Regions from separate parts of the Homo sapiens genome. Here regions 2, 3 and 4 are each reported to be linked to region 1. The links are microRNA targets in miRTarBase. Many come from high-throughput screens and were not tested one by one. Region 1 holds a microRNA gene; each other region holds the end of a gene's coding sequence.

Region 1 (5,514 bases):
GGAATATTTTAGCAATGGATATTGTGAGCCAAGCTGGACTACACGAATTTTCGCTCAGAACAGCCTGAGGCAGATATGAAAGGAGAGGCCAATATACATCATAGCCAATAAGAGGACTGTAGATCCATATCAGAGAGAAATGTCAAGAATCAGGTCCAAGGGGAGTGAGTCAAGCCTTGAAAGGTACGAAGACTATTAAGACATTTAAAACCAAGGAGCAAGAATAGACCAGAAAACAGGTGCTACGTGGCCATTGGTGCATAAGCAAACCCTTGGTTCTTCCTCCTGGAACTTTTCTACAACTCCATTGACTTTCCCTTCATCTTAGCAGTATTGTCCTGTGCCTGGCTATCATTTTTGTAAACTGGAAATAAGCTTTTCTGATCCATTGTAAACTGTCCTCATGAATGAAATCCAAGCATCTCTGAGCTTTCTCCAGTCTTCAATGTGATCTCAGTGTTTAATGAATTCTGTAAAAATCTCCAGCAAATTGAGAATGCCTCTTTCCTTGCAGCTGCCTCATTCTGTATTTTTTAATAGGTTGAAGAAACATTTGCTTTATAATATTCTGTAATATTTTGTTTCAAAATGTGTACTCTTGGAATCAGCTGTAAATCATAATATATACCTTTAATAATTTTCCAACTTCAAAATTGCTTTTTTAAAAAAATAAAGAAGACATGATGCTCTCTTAACGTGAAACACTGTTTTCTAAGACTAAAATATTTTCAACAAAAAATTTCAGGTATATTCCATTTTCTTCAGTCGAGATCAAGATAGCAGAGAACAGCCAGATAAGTTCCCCATAGATCTGTCTTTACTCAAACGCTGCTATGAGTCCAAACACATTTTATTTATGAATGGTTTTTGAAATTCTCCAGTGCTTTTTATTTCTATTAGAAACTCTTTTTACAAATGACATCTCCATGAGTAAATATTTAAAAGAACAAGTGTCATAAAGAACTGAATGTTGCATCCATTATAATACTGTATTCCAATGTTAGATCTCAAGACCAAGACTCCTTGAAACTTCAATGTTATCTGCAGAATTCCAGTTTGAAAGTGCTTTCATGTTCTTAATCTTTTAGAAGTATTTTTAGTAGACAATTATATTTTACCTGTCTATCACATTCCTTTGGAGGAACTTCTTCTCCTAGTTTTAGCCATGAGAGCCAATGGTAGCAGCCATCATTTATGTCACCCCACATTCTTGGCCACATCGCTGTTCAAGAAGAGAGACCTTGAATCAACAGAGGATACATGGAATTCCAAGGCACTTGAAAAAGCCTCGTGTAACAGACACTCTTGGTTCTTTGTGCCACTCCACTGGCGTACCCATTTCTGCATGCCTGTGCTCTTGGCTCTATGTGCTTTTTGTCTAAGAGCTCACATCTGTGACTCTTTTCTGAGGTCTAGCCTAGGCTACTGAAGATGCTTTGCCTTTATGCGTTGCCTGCAGGCAAGTGCAAAGAGTCAGAAGCACTTGAAATTCATGCTCCCTGGGGTGGCCTTTGGCCAATGCCTGACTGCTTTGGGAGTTTAAAGCCCAGGAAACTTGTCTGGTGTCTGGATAACTCAGAGCATCATTTATACACTACAGTGACCTTGCAGGATAAAGCTAAGTCTGGAATTTTCCTGAAATCATACCCTTGCTTGGCTTCTTCCCCATTCCCTGTCCTGTTCCCTGTACTTCCCCCGAGCCCCCTACCTCCCATTTCCTTTCTCTTAGAGCACTTTCATTATATTAGTTTGGTGCAAAAGTAATTGCCAGTTTTGCCATTACTTTTAACGGCAAAAAACCCCAATTACTTTTGCACAAACCTAATACACATCACACGCGCACACACAGCCTCATGGCAGGGTCTACTTCTAGGGAACCTGACCCAAGCAGCATGGACTCAGGCTGGGCCAGTAAGGGAGTGTCTTTCCCTGAGATGTTCATACTTGGAGCTGGGAGGTAGCAAGCTTATCAGGATATGAGTCTGAAGCTGCTGGTGGCTTGAGAGAATGAAGCTGACCCACAGAAGAAGCAGAAACAACACTGATGCTATTGTAGTCTCTGCCTCCAGCTGCCTTTGAGGCTATCCCCACTCCTACCTTCTGAAGATGTGGCTGAGATAGTTAAGTTAGGTTCCTGTCATTTGCATCCAAGAAAACCGTAACTAAAGGGGTCAAGACTAAAGAGTTCTCAAATCCTAAAGACCCTTTTCGTGGAGAAAAGCACAGTTATACATAACTTTGTATGCAATTGCAGGGGTACACAGTCCCATTCCTTATAGTTTAGCTCAACTATATTAGCATCTTACATACACTTACAATTTTATAAGCATTAAATACTTCTGGGTTGCCCATGACTTTTCCTGACAACAGAGTTTGCCTTGCTAATCTCTTAGACGTTTTTGAGAAAAACAATAAACAGGACTTCTGTTTGGGTTTTTTCCCCAAGTAAACACAGTCACCATCACAGAAATCACAACTGATCAAGTCAATAAATAAGGAAGTTAAAAAAAAAAAGTATGTGCAAGCAGAGTACATATTCAAAACTGTGCAAATGGCCAAAATGGCCGGGCACAGTGGCTCACGCCTGTAATCCCAGCACTTTGGGAGGCCGAGGTGGGCAGATCACTTGAGGTCAGGAGTTTGAGACCAGCCTGCCCAACATGGTGAAATGCCGTCTCTACTAAAAGTACAAAATTTAGTTGGGTGTGGTGGCGCATGCCTGTAATCCCAGCTACTCGGGAGGCTGAGGCAGGGGAATTGCTTGAACCCGGGAGGTGGAGGTTGCAGTGAGCAGAGATGGCGCCATTGCACTCCAGCCTGGGGAACAAGAGCAAAACTCCATCTAAAAAAAAAAAAAAAAAAGCAAATATTCACATGAATAGAAAACGTAGGAGGCAGGAAAGATGTATCACTGGACCATTGGACTATCATCTCACATTCTTTTTTTTTTAATTATTTTTTGTAGAAACGGGGTCTCACTATGTTTACCAGGCTGGTCATGACCTCCTGGCCTCAAACGATCCTCCCACCTCAGCCTCCCAGAATGCTGGGATTACAAGCATGAGCCACTGTGTCTGGCCTATCATCTCACACTGAGCAACGTGGAAGTGACTGTAGTACATCTTTGATTGGGAAAAAATATTTACACTATTGTAAGATCAATAGAACTATGACTTAAATCCGACAATTCCCCTAGAGTTTATGAATTTTGTCATTTTTTCATGTGTCCAAGTGAAAAAACAACAATTCTCTCAGCATAGTTGGGAAAGCTCCTGTCTTCTCCCTGCCCTGCCCCCTTCAGCACCCTGACCCCACCCCCCACACAATACATTATGTCAGAAAGATTAAATGGCTTAACACCATCAGGCCCAAAATGACAGAGTCATGTTCAGGGCCTACATTTCTTTTTTTCTTCCTTTCATTTTTAGAGATGGGGTCTTGCTTTGTTGCCCAGGCTGGAGTACAGTGGCACAATCATAGCTCACTACCACCTGGAACTCCTGGGCTCAAGCGATCCTCCTGCCTTGGCCTCCCAAAGTGCTGGGATTACAAGCATGAGCTGCTGCACCCGGCCCCACATTTCTGAGTGCTAGTTCACTTCTCAGATGCACCTCACATTGTTTTCCCTGAGCCTTCTGAAGCTCCCCTTCAACCATCAAGAAACCCTCATGGTGCTGAGCATGGCAGCTCATACCTATAATTCCAGCACTCTGGGAGGCTGAGGCAGGAGAATCTCTTGAGGGCAGGAGTTTGAGACCAGCCTAGGTAACATAGCGAGAGCCTGTCTCTACAAAAAATAAAAAAATTAGCTGGGTGAGGCAGCACGTGCCTATCATCCCAGCTACTCCAAAGGCTGAGATGGGAGGATTGCTTGAGTCCAGGAGTTTGAGCCTGCAGTGAGCCATGATTGTACCACTGCACTCCAGCCTGGGCAACAGAGTAAGACCCTGTCTCGAAACAAAACGAAAAAAAACCAACTATGGGTTTGGGTTTCAGACCAGCCTGAAGCTAAGCCTGCTCACGGTGCTCTCGGGACATTTGCCTTCATCTCGCTGCATCTAGAGCAAACAGGAAGGTGTTAGGAGAGGCAGGAAGGCGGGGTTTCCATCAGCATCAGGCAGGAGGGGACAAAGGAGTTTTTCATGCCTGGCAGAATCCTCACTCTAAGATGGTAGGAATGTACAGTTACAGCTATATATCCCTTTGGGAAACTTTTTGGGAAGTAGGAAGATCTACCTCCATCTGACTGTGGTATTTTCTGCTTTATGAAAAGCAGAGATATGTGCTTTTCATGTAGCTTTATGAATGTAATCTTCTATCCTGTGACAGAAAAAGAAAGAGAAAGGAAGAAAGAGGGAGAAAGAAGGAAGGAAAGAAAGAAGAAAATGAAGGAAAGAAAGAAGAAAAGGAAGGAATGAAGAAAGGAAGGAAGAAGGAAGAAGGGAGGGAAGGAGGGAGGAAGGAATGTAGGAAGGAAGGAAGGGAGGAGAACTTGATATTTGATAACTGTGTTTGTGAGCATCTTTCTGGTCATCCTATCATCTTCTCATTTTGACAGGCACATGTCAAACTTCAGTGCTGCCTGATCTCTTTCCCTTCACTGAGACTTGATTTTATCTGGTGACAGTTTTCCTTTTAACCAGTTATCAGGAGTAGGCGGCTTGTATTCCCTTTCCCCTTTAAAATTCATACCTTTAAACTTCATAGTCACACATGTTGCTACATAACATATTACCACAGACTTAGCCACTTAAAACAACCCTCCTTTATGAGCTCACAGGGATGTGGTCCACAGGCTAGGAGAGGGCTGGGTCCTTAGGGTCTCACAGGGTCAAAATGGAGGCAGATGCTGGATGGCGCGCTTATCTGGACGTCCTTGAGAAGAAGAATCAGCTTTCGACCTCCTTCAGGCTGTTGACAGAATTCAGATCCTGTGGCTGGTGAGGACGGAGGACCCCTTCCTTGCTGGCTGTCAGGTGGGAGTGACTCTCAGCTCTAGGGGCTTCTCTGTTCCTTGCATGAGGACCCCTATATCCTCAAAGCCAGTAATAGGCGTGAATCCCCTCACGCTTTGAATTTCTCTGACTTCCTCTTCTGCTACTTTCTAGAGAAAATTCTCTGCTTTAAAGGGCTTGCCTGCTGGGCTAGGCCCACCAGTATGATCTTCATGCAGGGTGGCTGACTCGGGAGTTTAGTGACAACTGCAAAACTCTTTCATAGCTGTGCCTAGCTTAGCATTTGCATAAGTAAGGCACAGGACTCTGCATGAAGGGGTCATCTTTAGAATTCTGCGCACCACAGCTACCAACCTGGAAGCACTTTAGTCCCCTCTGGGGGTCCCGGATGAATGTGGAGGTCTCCATGTTCCAGAGATGGTAAGAGTATGTTCTGCCAGGGTGGCTTCCGCTTCTGGGGTTACTTGCTGCGTATGGCTTGGATTTTGTCTGCTAGGCCTCTCTGTCCTCTTATTCTTTTGTCTTCCTTGGGTGGGAGGTTTAGAGATTCCGCCTACAT
Region 2 (5,514 bases), not on the chromosome of region 1:
TAGATGGGATGCTTTTGAAAGCATAATTAAGAAACTTTACTTGAATTTTGTTTATAATGGGCTAATGTTATTTTCTTATAGTTTGCAGTGTTGATGTGGGTATTTACCTATGTTGGTGCCTTGTTTAATGGTCTGACACTACTGATTTTGGGTAAGTCTACAAAGCCATTGGGATGAAAAATTGCTGGAAAGATTGTGTGCCAGGAGCTTAGACATTTTAGTGGAGAATATTCTCATTGTATGAAAAGTAGGGGATGAAAATGTGGGCCGGGCGCGGTAGCTCATGCCTGTAATCCCAGCACTTTGGGAGGCCAAGGTGGGCGGATCACCTGGGGCCAGGAGTTCGAGACCAGCCTGGCTAACATGGTGAAACCCCATTTCTACTAAAAATAGAAAAAATTAGCTGGGCGTGGTGGCGCACGCCTGTAATCCCAGCTACTCCGGAGGCTGAGGCAGGAGAATCACTTGAGCCCAAGAGGCAGAGGTTGCAGTGAGCGGAGATCGTGCCATTGCACTCCAGGTTGGGCAACAAGAGTGAAACTCCATCTCAAAATAAGTTTGAGGTTGTATTCTCTTTAAATAAGTTGGTGATACTGCTTCCCGGTTTATTGAAATGCTACCTTAGTTGCTGAAGACAGCTCCTACTAACAAACAGTGATAAACCAGATAAAGGGTGGCTTTATATGATGGTGCAGTCATAAATCTAACCAGGGATACCTTTATTTTATGAAATCTCACTGTGATATGATTTGAAGCTAGAAATGGTTCCTAGCTCTAATAACTGCAGCCTCACACAGTTCATTCATTCCTCTGGAGTGGCTCCTCAACAGCAGATGCATCCAGAGATCCTTATGTTTTTATTCATTCATTAGGAACACTGCTTGGTTATCTTGAGTTGCCAGTTTAATAGTTTTTTGAGTGTTTATTCCTCCCAAATCATTCCGTTCTTTTTGAAAAGTTGTATATTTCCCTTTTCAGCTCTCATTTCACTCTTCAGTGTTCCTGTTATTTATGAACGGCATCAGGTAATTTCCTAACTAACTGCTGACTTCAGAATAGAGCACTCACTCTATTACATGGGATTTACGGATGTATTAGTGCCCATTTTCAATGTCTTACAAAAATGAGAAGTGTGATGGTTTCTTAAGCCTTTAGCTTGACACATAGTAGTGGTTAATAAGATTCTTTAGCAACGGTAATAATTCCTTTATACCTCTCTTTCAGGCACAGATAGATCATTATCTAGGACTTGCAAATAAGAATGTTAAAGATGCTATGGCTAAGTAAGTATTTAAAATCTGCAGTGTTTTTACTAGGATAAGGTGTGCTGGATTGTGAGAACAGTATTTTCATATTGCAGGCATAATGAGTAACAAATCTCTATCAGACCTTAAGTGTGACTTCAGAGTTGCCAAAAGATTGTTTTTCTAACATTTGGACCATTCGTTTCTGGGTTTATTATGTGTTTAAGGCTTTGTTTAAATCTAATTCATGAGGCCAAGGTGGCAAAATTATAGCTTAGAATTAGGCAGCTTTAAGGATTTCATTTATTGTATTAGCTGAATAACATACAAGTAGTTCTTGGAAGATGGTATTTTAAGCAGCAGCAAACAAAACTGATATTTACATTGACTTTTTCATTTTCAGAATCCAAGCAAAAATCCCTGGATTGAAGCGCAAAGCTGAATGAAAACGCCCAAAATAATTAGTAGGAGTTCATCTTTAAAGGGGATATTCATTTGATTATACGGGGGAGGGTCAGGGAAGAACGAACCTTGACGTTGCAGTGCAGTTTCACAGATCGTTGTTAGATCTTTATTTTTAGCCATGCACTGTTGTGAGGAAAAATTACCTGTCTTGACTGCCATGTGTTCATCATCTTAAGTATTGTAAGCTGCTATGTATGGATTTAAACCGTAATCATATCTTTTTCCTATCTATCTGAGGCACTGGTGGAATAAAAAACCTGTATATTTTACTTTGTTGCAGATAGTCTTGCCGCATCTTGGCAAGTTGCAGAGATGGTGGAGCTAGAAAAAAAAAAAAAAAAGCCCTTTTCAGTTTGTGCACTGTGTATGGTCCGTGTAGATTGATGCAGATTTTCTGAAATGAAATGTTTGTTTAGACGAGATCATACCGGTAAAGCAGGAATGACAAAGCTTGCTTTTCTGGTATGTTCTAGGTGTATTGTGACTTTTACTGTTATATTAATTGCCAATATAAGTAAATATAGATTATATATGTATAGTGTTTCACAAAGCTTAGACCTTTACCTTCCAGCCACCCCACAGTGCTTGATATTTCAGAGTCAGTCATTGGTTATACATGTGTAGTTCCAAAGCACATAAGCTAGAAGAAGAAATATTTCTAGGAGCACTACCATCTGTTTTCAACATGAAATGCCACACACATAGAACTCCAACATCAATTTCATTGCACAGACTGACTGTAGTTAATTTTGTCACAGAATCTATGGACTGAATCTAATGCTTCCAAAAATGTTGTTTGTTTGCAAATATCAAACATTGTTATGCAAGAAATTATTAATTACAAAATGAAGATTTATACCATTGTGGTTTAAGCTGTACTGAACTAAATCTGTGGAATGCATTGTGAACTGTAAAAGCAAAGTATCAATAAAGCTTATAGACTTAAAATATGCTTTGGTATTTTCATTTCATGAAATTGCAGCAGATTAAAAATGCACACAGTGGGTAAACTGCTTCAACCAGCGAATGGTAGCTTGTGCTTTTAGAAGGGTTTTTTTCAGCTGATGGTGCAGCTGTTTGTTTGTTTACTGTGGAAACAAAAGTCAACAAATGTGTTTACATAATCAAATTTTATTTGACACATAAAATGTTTAAGTGATGTGTTTTATACTTTGAAAATAAATTCATGCACCAATGTTTTAACTCACATATATCATACAGTGCAGGATTTATGAACATACATAAAATCAAAATCATACCATATAAACGTTTACAAATAAGTTTTTCATGACACACGGACACTATTGCTCTTTAAATATGGTTGTACATGTCATCATTAATCGATTCATTGTTCTTCCACATGGTTATTTCAATGCAAGATCCGATCAGCATGAAGAGTCTAGTACAAGATAGGCAGACATGGTTATCACTCTGCATCACCAGTCACATGGTTACAGAAAACAGAATTGGGACTGCATAGGGACTCTACTGCGGGCCCAACAACCTATTAGTGGATTGATGTAAGGCATTAGTAAATTGGCATATAAAAATAGCTTAATGAGTGATCTAATCCATTTAGAATGCTGAAGCACTTCTGTGGTAAATGTTAGTCTATTCTACAATTGAAAATGCCTCATTTTACCTTTTCTCTAAACTGACAAATGCAAGTAGCCAGTAACTGTAGGTCTAGAATTTTCGTTCACTGACCAGAAGGACTAATAGGCGTCTATGTGCTCAGAACCACCAGTCCCGCACCAACTCTCCTTTCAGTGAGCACTGTCAGCCACATCCTGTAGTCACTGGTCAGCTACATGGAAAGTGTGACTGAGGGGCTTACGGATGGCTTCTGGTAAAGATTGTCCAAGTCATATTCCGTCATACAACCAACTCCAAGGAACTCTAACTCACTTTATAATTTTGATTTACCAGCTATTCCTTGGGTTTACAATTTGTTCTGCAGATAATTTTTTTATAATCTGGACTTGACCTATATAGTTCGCCTGAAGCAATCAAATGAAGTCACCTCAACTCCACTCAGGGTGGTACACCAAGGTGCAGCCTTGGGTTACCCTCATTTATCTTAAGATTTAACGAGATAAGTCAGCTCATTCTCATAGACCTTCCTGAGCCTTTTTCCCCTTCCATTTTGTAGTAGAAGTTTGTTTAACTTGAATTCTATTTTGGATTTTGTGGGTTTGGCATGAAACACAATGAAAACCCATAATTCTACCCTGTCCCGAACTTCAATTCCTTTGCTGCTCACCTTCCCATAAGCAGGTAACCGATGTCTTTCATTTAGGAAGCCTTGGCGTGAACACAGGACAAGGGTGACACACTGAATCTGCTAAGGGTCCTGCAGCCCTCCTCAGCTTTGAGGTTTTAGCACCATATGGAGAAAGGAGAAATTGGTGGGAGGTGAGACAGCAGCCCACACAACTGGAAACTTTCAAAGGCACTTAATGGATATAAAACTCTGCAAATGAAACATTTAAAAATTAAGTTTCTCAACTCCTTTATACATGGCTCATTTGGTTTTGAAAGCTAAACTGGAGAACAGAGGCTAGCGATATTTCTAGTACTTCGGTGCATCTAACTTAGGCTGTCTTGTTCAACTTATTTGTAAAAATGAACATTCTTGAAGTATATAGAAACAATAGCAAAACATCTTTGTAAAAGTTTTGATGCAAATTAAAAGCTACATATTGGTTAGGGTAACCGAGGCTTCAAAATTCGTCAGCGGGCTACATTATCAGATAGGATTTCTTTGTCAATGTAGTTAGTATGTATACTGTTTAGTCTCAGGAACAGAGGCAAGCAGTCTTTAACATTTTAAAACTTGACCTTCCTTCGTGGCATCACGGTTTTGGAGAGTCCAGATTATGGGAGCAGTTGTGTAACTTCTGCAGCGTTTTGAGCTTGTGCATCCGGGGCAGCATGGTAGGCATTTCCCAACGGCTGGTGGCAAGGAGGCACCTCAGCATGGCCTCTGCAGTTGCTGGCTGGTAGCAGCAGCAGCAATAACATAAGAGGCTTCTGGCATTTTACAGACATCGCCACACAAATACACTGAAAAGGCAGATCAAACAGTCATTTTGCATAGCTGGACATCATACTTGTGTCAAGTGGCAAAAAACAATCTTGCCAAGTGCTCAAAAGTCAAGCTCGGGTGATGTATTGAACATTTTGACTTCAAAAGGTAAACCAGGGATCTTGCCACCAAATTAAGATCTATTGCTTTTCTTAAAAGGTCTGTTTTTTTCAGTTGAGTTCTGTTTGGTTCTTTCAGCAGTTTGAATGTCTGTGCTAAATGTTGGTCCGTGAGGACTTCTGGCACTTTGATATCACACTCTCTCCTGTTACTATTGAAAAGGTTTATCACCTCCACTTGAGTCAGAGAGCCCTTTTGAGTGTTTAGCACAGAACCAGGGATCACAGCATGCTCCCATGCCTACAAAGGCCTGCAAGCCCTGCACGGTTAAGGCCACTTCTTTTTTATATTAAAACAAGTCTGTATCCCCTGCATTGGGGTGACCAATTCATTTACGTCTTTTACTCCTAGCTTGTTCACAATTGGGTTGGTGCTGCTTTGAAGGGGTGTTAGCACTTCACAGGGAGCTGCTGGCGGTACTATCTCAAGGGCTATAAGTGCCAGAAGTAGCCAGCACAGCAGGCTGGAGATGGGGGCTCCCAGGCAGGCCATGAGAAATACACAGTGCTTTTGAGTGGGAAGTGGGTTGAGATTCTTTATAGGTGCCTTTCTTACAACCTAACTCAGACCACCAGGAAGTATCAGAAGGCCTGTATT
Region 3 (5,480 bases), not on the chromosome of region 1:
GATGTAACAGCCATGTAAGGGCCTTGGGTGGAAATGCTAGTTTAAATTTCTCCTAAAAGTAGGAGGAGATAATAACCGTGTACATGCAACATTTAAGTTCTTCCCTCAAGGGGAGGTGTTTGTTTTTCCTTTTAAGATGTAAGGCATCCTGGCCCTAAAATACCCCCTGAATATCCATTTATACCCTTGCTGCAGGGATGGTGGCTAAAGGGGAGGAGCTGAGCTACACCCCACTTGATGGAACGCAAAGACTGTGGTGAGGTTGGAGAGCAGTGCTGTGCGTCCTTCCTCAGCCTTAACGAGTGCGGGGCAAGGTTAACACAGATTTCTACACCCTTTTGCTGCATACACAGACGAGGCCACCTGCAGATGCCACCACTGCTCAGTGTGAGTTGAGTGTTGGATGGGAGAGCCATCTGCTCCATACACCTCAGGGCCCCTTCTGGGGCCCAATAACCTCATGGGAACAGGTAGGGGATCTCCTAGCCTTCACAAAGGCAACAAACCAAAATGAGCAAAGAGTTAGCCCTGAAGTCGAATGGGATCTTATTGATTTTCCTCTGCCTAATGATTGTTAATAGGAGGAATCTGGATTCCGTGTACATAGGTGGAAATAGTGGAAATCCCAAAGGAGACAAGCTGATGATTTTAAAACTTGATTCACTTGGATCAGAACCTAGCTCAAGCATTTTCCTGATTGCATTGTCCCTGCAACTGTCGTCTATTGTAGCTGACTGCTGAAGAGGAAATGAAACCAAATAGAAGGTTGTTTGTAAGCAATCTCTCTGCTCTTCTTAAAAATAAATTAGGGATATCAGGATCGGCTCATGGCTAGAATGAGGACATAGAGAGACATGCAGAAATTCTGTTTTTATATTGAGGTGAAGAAGTGGGTAGGGAGGGCTTTAAGGATTATCTAATCCAACCTTCTCATTTTGCAGCAGTGGAAGGTGAGGCTTGGAGAGGCCACAGGATGTGCCTACAATCACAGAGCTGGAGGCAAAACCCAGCAGAACCAAGTCAGCCCAGTGGCCTTCCTACCGATTCACCATGGCCTTTGGACCGGCCCATACTCAGTCTATTTTAAGTAATGCCAAGAAGTGTCTCTATGTATCCCCCAGCAGTATTCATGCCCAACCAGCCAGGACACTCAGGGTTCCCCAATTTACTATTAGGGAGCCTACTTCGGCAGCAGGGAGAGTGGTACTTTGGGACAGGTTGGGGCTGGCAGGGCAGGCTGACAGAGGTGCTGAGCAGGAAAGCATGCAGGAGGAAAATCCTGCAGGGGTGTCTGTTTCACAAGAGTTACAAGAATACAGGACCATTCCTTCTACCAAGGAGGCTAGTGGTTCGAGATCCTAGAAAACTAGGACTCCGCCTTTACCAAGAATAAACAACAGCTTCTCCTTCCCCAAATTGCAAAAACAAACAAACAAACAAACAAAAAAAACACCCAGGCTTTCTCAGGAAATCTGGTCCCCAACTTTGAATGCCCTCCTTGTTTGCTACTGCATATGTAATTGAAATGCCTCCAAGAGATGCAAATAATTTTTGTCTATTTAATCTGCACACTTTTTGAGGCTGGAGTCCCGAGTGTGTCAGTATTACTGCCCATTCCCGAATCGAGGCACAGAGATGAAAGTGCAGCAATCAGACATAATGGTTCAGTGCAGCCTGTGTCAATGCTTGCACAGTAGTGTGTTAATGAGTGTTAAAACTGACATCTCAAATATGGCATCCTCAATTTTAAAAATTACAGCTCTGTAAGAAGTCATGCTGTTAAAACACACAAGAAATACCAGTTACGCCTTCAAGTAGCTAACACACAGCCTGTACAGATCACCACTATCCCAAAGTGCATAACAACTTATTTTCTTTGAAATGCGGCAAGAATTAGCAGGTAGTTCAATTATTTGAGTGCTAAGATAAGTAGAAATAACAAATGCAAATGTTAAATACCAATTACTACCTTACGAGCTACAAATCAGCTTGGCATTACAACATGCCCTTCCTCACTCACAAACCCGAGAAATGTGGGGGTTTGGCAGAAAACACAAACCTATAACCAATATGCATTTGTGCAACAGACGTGTCACTTCCCAACCCAGCACTTCCAAAATGCACATCACAGATATCAAAGCCTGGCCCATATATTTGGCCCACTGGCATTGAAAACAATAACCTTCAAATGCTGGGAGTGACACTTCTCTCAAGCTCACAGCTGGAAACAAGTCATCTCCAGTTTCTACTCTGTCCCCCTAAAGGAGGTTTACAGGTCAGTCTGACAGCCTGGTTGCCAAAGATGTCACCTCATATTTTTACAGAAAATTAACCTGACTCTCCCTGGTTAGCTTCAGGGACTAAAAGAAACTGCTGGTTAGATGTTATCTAGCAAGGTCGATCAAAGACCCAGTGGAGAGCACCTGTAAACTTCAAACCTTAGTGAGACTTTAGGGGAGAGGAAGATTATTTCTCCCTGGGTCACCATTCAGTCTACATTCCTTGTGGGAATTAGCTCCAGGGTTTAAGCCAGCCGGGTTGTTCTTTCTCCCACTTATCTGAAACCACCACTTGAAAAACTCAATGCTATTGGGACATTCTCATGCTCAGAAGTGAGTAAAGGTCCAGTTGGGCAAGATAATATTTTATATAAGTATATATGTATGTACAAGAGATGTTAAAAAGATAGTCTCTAAAGCACGTTGGGATTCCTCCAACGAAAGGCACCAGATAAATGCAAGTCATTACCAAAAAGAAAAGTCAAGTTTTCCAGCTTTCACATCTGCAAAGGGTAACCACTAGGGTACCTCTTTTTTGGTGGTAAGCCTTCTTGTTTAGAAAAATCTTCATGAAAGTGACTGAGTTATTCTGCCTTGTTCCTTGCTTCCACTTTGCATAAGCTTCCTGGTCAGCGGCCATGGATACCAGGCTCAGTGACCCAATACCATCAGCCTTGGCAAACTGATCCGTCCTCATAAGTCTGTACCACCACCTGCCTTCAGTGCAGCTGGGGATGAGTCCGTAAATGTTATGCCTTCCAGGGCTGGAAGCACCAGCCAAATCTAAGTGTTCCATGTGCAAATTCTGAAAAATAACTCTGCTCCTCTGATTCAGTGCCCAGTTGCCTCTAAGTCATCTCACTTTTCCTGATGCTTCAGAGACACGGATGTAGACACTAGGAGACAGCCACCTCCCAGCCTCCCACAAGCCTCCAGTCCAATGGAAAGATTTGAACTGGGGGCTCCAGGACACAAGTGGCTAGTGAATTCATTCAATAAATCACCCACACTGTAGTAGCCATGACAACTACAAGAACACAAAGCCTTCTGATAAGATCCTTGCCACACCTCCAATGAGGTAAGTATCATCTTCAATCAACTGAAACACAAAAGGACCTCTTAAGAAGAGGCCCAACCTTTGGATGAAAACCCTGGATAGCTCCATGCTCAGACCCCTGGGTTCTATTGCCTTTTCAAAGATGGAACAATAATGAAAGCCACCTGGAAAACCATCAGATTACCTTAAAGATGATGGAGAAGAATTATCTTATAGAGGAACCCAGGTTCCCCATCACAATGTTATGTGCTGGTTAACCGAACAAGAGGAGCAGGAGCATTTTGGAGGAGGAAACAGTCGTCTCCCTTCAATACAAGTTTGGAAGCTTGAAGGTCTTTTGAATAGCATTAAGCTTTTCAAGTTTACAATTTTTTATGACATTTTATGAACTAGCAGTTTTTTATTTTACAACTCTTTCCTTTCTCCTGGCCTCTACCCAGTCACCCCCCATGAAAGGCAGTGGGAATGCAAGTAAGAACTGCAGTGTTTCCATCCTGGGTAAGCCACACCACCATCGTGCACGTCTATATTTTGAGTACATGCTTCCATACCACCAGGTTTCCATGTCATGGCAGGAACTCCAGGGCAATCACAGCATCATATACAACATACTATATCCTAGAAGCAAAATTATCTGACTAAATTCTGCTTGGAAATAAAAGGGCTCTCATTTGATGAGCTTTCAGAGTAGGCAACAAAAGTATTTAAGCTACTGCCCTTGCTAGCAACCCAACAACGTTCACCTCAGGGAGACGATACAACAGTAAACTTCTTTTTAGTTGAGGAAGACAACACGACCTTACTCCTAAACATCTTAAAAAATAAATATTTCAAAAACATGCTAATATCTTAGACACAGCAAAGTTTGGTCAAATGGCCTAGATCAGAAACCTCATCCGGAAATACATTTCTCTACAGTCACCCTAGGAAACAAGGAGGCTTGACTGTGAACCAAGGGGCTCAGCCTGCACTAACTTGGCTTTAAGCACCCTAGGGTTTGGACTATTTAGCTGAAGCCCCTCTCCCTAACACATCTGTTCTTGGGAAAAAAATTCGATCTTCACTGCATGTTTAACTAAGTAACATTCTCTAAAGAGTGACATTTATGAGATGAACATCAGTGTACATCGTTCTAAAGATGATTGGTGCACCCATGCAAGCCACGGAACTACAGATCATTTATAAAAACAACTTAGAGACTTGCATTGGTCAAGTCTGCTTAACTTTGCATTCTCTTTGTTTTGGTACTAAAACTAAGTGAAAGCAATGGATAAAGAGCTGAGATTTTGTTTTCACATGACTGTGAGCAAAATCTCATCATATCCTTGCTGACCTCATAGATGCATTTCTACTGGACGACTTGTGGGGGCTTTTTGTACAGAACTCACACGACAACCTCAGAAACAGGAGCACGACAACTCATAGACAGTACTGGGCCACAAGCACTAGAATAGCGTACACGATGGACAGAAAAATTAGCATTCTGGGTGTACTCATCTGGCAAAAAGGTGAACATTTTATGCCCACGATGCAAAGACCAGTGAGTGTCATTTCATGGAAAGGTGCAAAGGCATGGTGTCAGACACACCACCCTCTAAAAACGATTCTAAAAACTGTAAAAGAAACCTGGGTGCATATCCCATGCATCTCTCCCCTCAGGGGCTGGGCATACTCCTTACACCATAACCATAAGGTGCCTGGGCTGTGCCAGAGGCACAAGAGGCAGCTCAGCAATGTGGGGTGGAGGGTGACAAGTCCTCCCGGCTAACGTAGGGAATCATTTAAACTGAGTTCACTTGGTGAGCTCCTGCTCATGTTCGTCAGGCTTGCCATAAGGGATTTAACTTTATGGGCATAATAGTCCCTTAAATTGACCGAAGGGACCTCCTTCATTCCATCTCCAAAGTCACAGCTGCGCATGGCACTCTCAAGTTGCTTTTGGCGCCGGTAAAAGTGGGAGAACTTATTGAAGATCAAGGTGATGGGCAGGACCACCACGAGGATGCCTGCCAAGATGCAGGCAGAGGCAGTCAGCTTTCCTGCCGTGGTCCCTGGGACCACATCCCCGTACCCCACTGTGGTCATACTGACGGTAGCCCACCACCAGCAGGCAGGGATGGTGGCCAGGCCCTCGTTCTCCTCCT
Region 4 (5,492 bases), not on the chromosome of region 1:
GTTCAGTAAATTGAAATATTAAATACTTAATTTTCAGCTTTAGTCATTCTGAAAAGTGTTTATTTCTAGATGTTTCTTAACCTAATTGCATGTTTATTGACAAATTACCTTTTTTTTTTAAGACCACATTTCCTACTAAGGATTAAGGTCTGACAGTGTAAACCTGTAGAGTGCTTTTTTGCATTCAGAAGGTGGCAGTGTCTACCCTTTAATCAAAGTCTCTACATTCTGGTTTTAATAGAGTTAGGATGTGGTACATAATTGCACCTCAATGAGGCATAACTTTGCAAATATTAGACTATGCCATTTCATGAGTTATAGATTGTTATAATGATCTTGTATTTTTATGTTCATTTATTGAAGTTCTAGTTATTTCTGGAGTTGCTGTGGATCTACAGATACGTGATATTTTGGTATAACTAGAATCTTGATTTCTTTCATAAAGTTCTGCCATGTTCTATTTCTTTCCTTAATGTTTTTTTCTTCCCTACTGTTTTATCCTCCCTTTGCTTTGGAAGGATATTGCTGCATATCGAGCTAAAGGAAAGCCTGATGCAGCAAAAAAGGGAGTTGTCAAGGCTGAAAAAAGCAAGAAAAAGAAGGAAGAGGAGGAAGATGAGGAAGATGAAGAGGATGAGGAGGAGGAGGAAGATGAAGAAGATGAAGATGAAGAAGAAGATGATGATGATGAATAAGTTGGTTCTAGCGCAGTTTTTTTTTTCTTGTCTATAAAGCATTTAACCCCCCTGTACACAACTCACTCCTTTTAAAGAAAAAAATTGAAATGTAAGGCTGTGTAAGATTTGTTTTTAAACTGTACAGTGTCTTTTTTTGTATAGTTAACACACTACCGAATGTGTCTTTAGATAGCCCTGTCCTGGTGGTATTTTCAATAGCCACTAACCTTGCCTGGTACAGTATGGGGGTTGTAAATTGGCATGGAAATTTAAAGCAGGTTCTTGTTGGTGCACAGCACAAATTAGTTATATATGGGGATGGTAGTTTTTTCATCTTCAGTTGTCTCTGATGCAGCTTATACGAAATAATTGTTGTTCTGTTAACTGAATACCACTCTGTAATTGCAAAAAAAAAAAAAAAGTTGCAGCTGTTTTGTTGACATTCTGAATGCTTCTAAGTAAATACAATTTTTTTTATTAGTATTGTTGTCCTTTTCATAGGTCTGAAATTTTTCTTCTTGAGGGGAAGCTAGTCTTTTGCTTTTGCCCATTTTGAATCACATGAATTATTACAGTGTTTATCCTTTCATATAGTTAGCTAATAAAAAGCTTTTGTCTACACACCCTGCATATCATAATGGGGGTAAAGTTAAGTTGAGATAGTTTTCATCCATAACTGAACATCCAAAATCTTGATCAGTTAAGAAATTTCACATAGCCCACTTACATTTACAAACTGAAGAGTAATCAATCTACTCAAAGCATGGGATTATTAGAATCAAACATTTTGAAAGTCTGTCCTTGAAGGACTAATAGAAAAGTATGTTCTAACCTTTACATGAGGACTCTATTCTTTAACTCCCATTACCATGTAATGGCAGTTATATTTTGCAGTTCCCACATTAAAGAAGACCTGAGAATGTATCCCCAAAAGCGTGAGCTTAAAATACAAGACTGCCATATTAAATTTTTTGTTGACATTAGTCTCAGTGAAGACTATGAAAATGCTGGCTATAGATGTCTTTTCCCATTTATCTAAATATGGACTGCTCAGGAAACGAGACTTTCCATTACAAGTATTTTTAATTAATTGGGCCAGCTTTTCAAACAAAGATGCCACATTCAAAATAGGGTATATTTTCCTATATTACGGTTTGCCCCTTTATAAATCCAAGTAGATAGGAAGAAAGAAGACAAACTTTGCATCTCAGTATGAATTATTCAATTTATTTGAATGATTTTTCTTTACAAAACAAACTCATTCATTAGTCATGTTTATCTGCTTAGGAGTTTAGGGAACAATTTGGCAATTTTGTGGTTTTCGAGATTATCGTTTTCTTAAAGTGCCAGTATTTTAAAATAGCGTTCTTGTAATTTTACACGCTTTTGTGATGGAGTGCTGTTTTGTTATATAATTTAGACTTGGATTCTTTCCATTTGCATTTGTTTATGTAATTTCAGGAGGAATACTGAACATCTGAGTCCTGGATGATACTAATAAACTAATAATTGCAGAGGTTTTAAATACTAGTTAAATGGCTTTCACTTAAGAACTTAAGATTTTGTTACATATTTTTAAATCTTGTTTCTAATAATACCTCTTAGCAGTACCTTTTAAATAAGTATAAGGGATGGCAAAGTTTTTCCCTTTAAAAATACTCACTTTATGCTTATAAATAGGTTAATGGGCTGATAAAAGGTTTTGTCAAACATTGCAAGTATTCGGTGCTATATATAAAGGAGGAAAAACTAGTTTTACTTTCAGAATGATTTAAACAAGATTTTTAAAAACAAGATACATGCAAGCGAACAGCAGGGTTAGTGATAGGCTGCAATTGTGTCGAACATCAGATTTTTTGTTAAGAGGAGCAAATGACTCAATCTGATTTAGATGGAAGTTTCTACTGTATAGAAATCACCATTAATCACCAACATTAATAATTCTGATCCATTTAAAATGAATTCTGGCTCAAGGAGAATTTGTAACTTTAGTAGGTACGTCATGACAACTACCATTTTTTTAAGATGTTGAGAATGGGAACAGTTTTTTTAGGGTTTATTCTTGACCACAGATCTTAAGAAAATGGACAAAACCCCTCTTCAATCTGAAGATTAGTATGGTTTGGTGTTCTAACAGTATCCCCTAGAAGTTGGATGTCTAAAACTCAAGTAAATGGAAGTGGGAGGCAATTTAGATAAGTGTAAAGCCTTGTAACTGAAGATGATTTTTTTTAGAAAGTGTATAGAAACTATTTTAATGCCAAGATAGTTACAGTGCTGTGGGGTTTAAAGACTTTGTTGACATCAAGAAAAGACTAAATCTATAATTAATTGGGCCAACTTTTAAAATGAAGATGCTTTTTAAAACTAATGAACTAAGATGTATAAATCTTAGTTTTTTTGTATTTTAAAGATAGGCATATGGCATATTGATTAACGAGTCAAATTTCCTAACTTTGCTGTGCAAAGGTTGAGAGCTATTGCTGATTAGTTACCACAGTTCTGATGATCGTCCCATCACAGTGTTGTTAATGTTTGCTGTATTTATTAATTTTCTTAAAGTGAAATCTGAAAAATGAAATTTGTGTGTCCTGTGTACCCGAGGGGTAATGATTAAATGATAAAGATAAGAAAAGCGCCCATGTAACACAAACTGCCATTCAACAGGTATTTCCCTTACTACCTAAGGAATTGTAACCATTGCTCAGACATTGTAGGATTTAACTATGTTGAAAACTACAGGAGAGGCCGGGCGCAGTGGCTCACGCCTGTAATCCCAGCACTTTGGGAGGCCAAGGCGGGCAGATCACGAGGTCAGGAGATTGAGACCATCCTGGCTAACGTGGTGAAACCCCGCCTCTACTAAAAATACAAAAAATTAGCCAAGCGTGGTGCTGGGCGCCTGTAGTCCCAGTAACTCAGGAGGCTGAGGCAGGAGAATGGCGTGAACCCGGGAGGCGGAGGTTGCAGTGAGCCGAGATTGTGCCACTGCACTCCAGCCTGGGTGACAGAGCAAGACTCCATCTCAAAAAAAAAAAAAAAACACAGGAGAGACAACTGGTTTTTGAATGAAATACATGGGTACTGCCTTGCTTGACATCACATAGTCCTTGATGAAAGTTCACATTTAGGTCTGCTTGGTACAATACGCCTCCTAAAAAGGTCCTTGATGAAAGTTCACATTTAGGTCTGCTTGGTACAACACGCCTCCTGAAAGGGTCTGATAGCTTTCAGTAGCAGTAAGACACTTGCATGTGATGGTAAGGTATCTGCAAATTTGCACACACCGTACACAGCTTAAGTCTTAGAATTAACTTGCTAAAATGTGAGCCTTTGGTAATTAGGCTGTTTTATTAGGGAGTGTGATAATATTTGAATTTCTTTTCATATTTGTGCTTTGTGTCATTTTCAAATGACCCTTGAAATGTATTTTAAAAGTAGATAAAAGCCAGAAAGTGATTTGATTGTCTATCCAGCAAAAGATGGTGGTTCATTTTCTTGTCCTCTTAATACCAAGGCAGTGCTAATAACACTTGCCACAACTTGGGAAATTCCATGGGTCTATGCCACATTGCTCCCAGAGTAATGAGGCAAAATAGTGCTCTGTTATAGAATTGCTTGTTTCACGATACATCATGACAGATAACCATACAACATGGAATGACACAAACATAATATGCCACACTCCAGAATATGTAATGCTCGTCTTCCAGGGGGGTTCAGTCTAAGGTAATCTCTACCAGGAAGAAATGCTAGATGACTTTAGACATGTGCATTGGTTTGGACCTTCTAATTAGTGGAATTTTTACTTATTTTGACATGAGAGATTACATAGAATCTCTATGTTGCCCAGGTTGGTCTCCAAATCTGCTCAAACAATCCTCCCGCCTCAGTTTCTCAAGTAGCTGGGATTACAGGGACACACCACTGTGCTTAGCTTAAATAGTTGAATTTATTGGGCATCCACTGAAAAGAAGGAAGTAGGAATAAAATCTGCAATAGTATGACTAAACCTGTAAGTGAGCATGAGCAGTGGTGGGCAAGGGTATGCAGACTCTGGAATCCAGAAATAGAAAGTCAGTGGAAAGCCAGGCACAGTGGCTCACACTTATAATCCCAGCACTTTGGGAGGCCGAGGTGGGAGGATCACTTGAGGCCAGGAGTTTGACACTAGCCTGGGCAACATAGTGAGGCCTTGTCTACTAGAAATAAATAATTTTGCAGATATACTAAATACCATTTTAAAAATAAGTGGAAAAGGGATTAGAGAGATCCTTGTAAATTATGTACTCATATTCATTGTTCTCTTTAGTCACATAATTCAGTCATGTACGTGACATTCCACAGTATGGTGCTCCATAATACATATTTTTTCTTTTTTCGATCTCACTTGTATATGATCCATAATATTTTTCATCATTCCCTTACTGATGGACATTTAGATTGTTTCCTATTTTTTGCTGTTTAACAGTACTGCGCTGAACATCTGTACATTTCTCTCAGGCATGTGTGGGTCTTCAGATACCTCAAAAGTAGAACTGCTGAGTCAAAAGACATTTGCATTTAACATTTTGGAAGATGTTGATAAATTGCACCCCACCACCCCCCCCCCCCGCCCACAAAAGCTGTTATTTATGCTGTGAAACATTTTAACAATGATTTTGCAATTAATCAAGATTTTTACTGGTTTTTCTTTGGCTGTATAACTCTATTTTTAAAAACGAGAAATTAAAATACTGAAATACTGTCATTTGTCCAGAGCTACCTGACCAGAATAAGAAACACAGAGAGAATCAACTGAAAGACTCTTAGGAC

The links. Region 1 holds the annotated microRNA hsa-miR-548a-3p (CAAAACUGGCAAUUACUUUUGC, at 1,755-1,776, opposite strand). A microRNA usually pairs through its seed, bases 2 to 8, with sites in the 3' UTR of a target mRNA and lowers its output. Matches are read on the target gene's strand: a 7mer-m8 pairs with bases 2 to 8, a 7mer-A1 pairs with bases 2 to 7 and ends in A, and an 8mer does both.
Region 2: miRTarBase lists EML6 as a target of hsa-miR-548a-3p. Seed matches in the 3' UTR shown: 7mer-A1 at 4,540-4,546 and 7mer-A1 at 4,176-4,182.
Region 3: the mRNA of KCNS2 is a reported target of hsa-miR-548a-3p. Seed matches in the 3' UTR shown: 7mer-m8 at 4,946-4,952, 7mer-A1 at 4,585-4,591 and 8mer at 1,713-1,720.
Region 4: miRTarBase lists HMGB1 as a target of hsa-miR-548a-3p. Seed matches in the 3' UTR shown: 7mer-m8 at 709-715, 7mer-A1 at 2,429-2,435 and 7mer-m8 at 2,719-2,725.

What each region holds. Positions count from the first base shown.
Region 1 is chr6:135,235,482-135,240,995 of GRCh38, reverse strand. It overlaps MIR548A2 (microRNA 548a-2), which reads right to left and starts at 1,836; the gene lies at 1,740-1,836. LOC105378011 (a long non-coding RNA gene) reads left to right here and starts at 4,801. Exons shown (of 3, transcript XR_001744368.2): 1 at 4,801-4,976.
Region 2 is chr2:54,969,332-54,974,845 of GRCh38, reverse strand. It overlaps EML6 (EMAP like 6), which reads right to left. Exons shown (of 42, transcript NM_001039753.4): 42 at 2,821-4,775. The coding sequence ends at 4,751. It overlaps RTN4 (reticulon 4), which reads left to right. Exons shown (of 9, transcript NM_020532.5): 6 at 82-151; 7 at 979-1,025; 8 at 1,225-1,283; 9 at 1,648-2,657. The coding sequence ends at 1,690. Among named protein-coding and RNA genes, the nearest start is that of RTN4, 78 kb to the left of the region's middle. RefSeq lists a silencer at 183-384.
Region 3 is chr8:98,429,034-98,434,513 of GRCh38, reverse strand. KCNS2 (potassium voltage-gated channel modifier subfamily S member 2) reads right to left here. Exons shown (of 2, transcript NM_020697.4): 2 at 1,661-5,480. The coding sequence ends at 5,101. It also overlaps a transcript of STK3 not described here. Among named protein-coding and RNA genes, the nearest start is that of KCNS2, 4.8 kb to the right of the region's middle.
Region 4 is chr13:30,456,560-30,462,051 of GRCh38, reverse strand. It overlaps HMGB1 (high mobility group box 1), which reads left to right. Exons shown (of 5, transcript NM_002128.7): 5 at 519-5,348. The coding sequence ends at 695. Among named protein-coding and RNA genes, the nearest start is that of HMGB1, 6.6 kb to the left of the region's middle.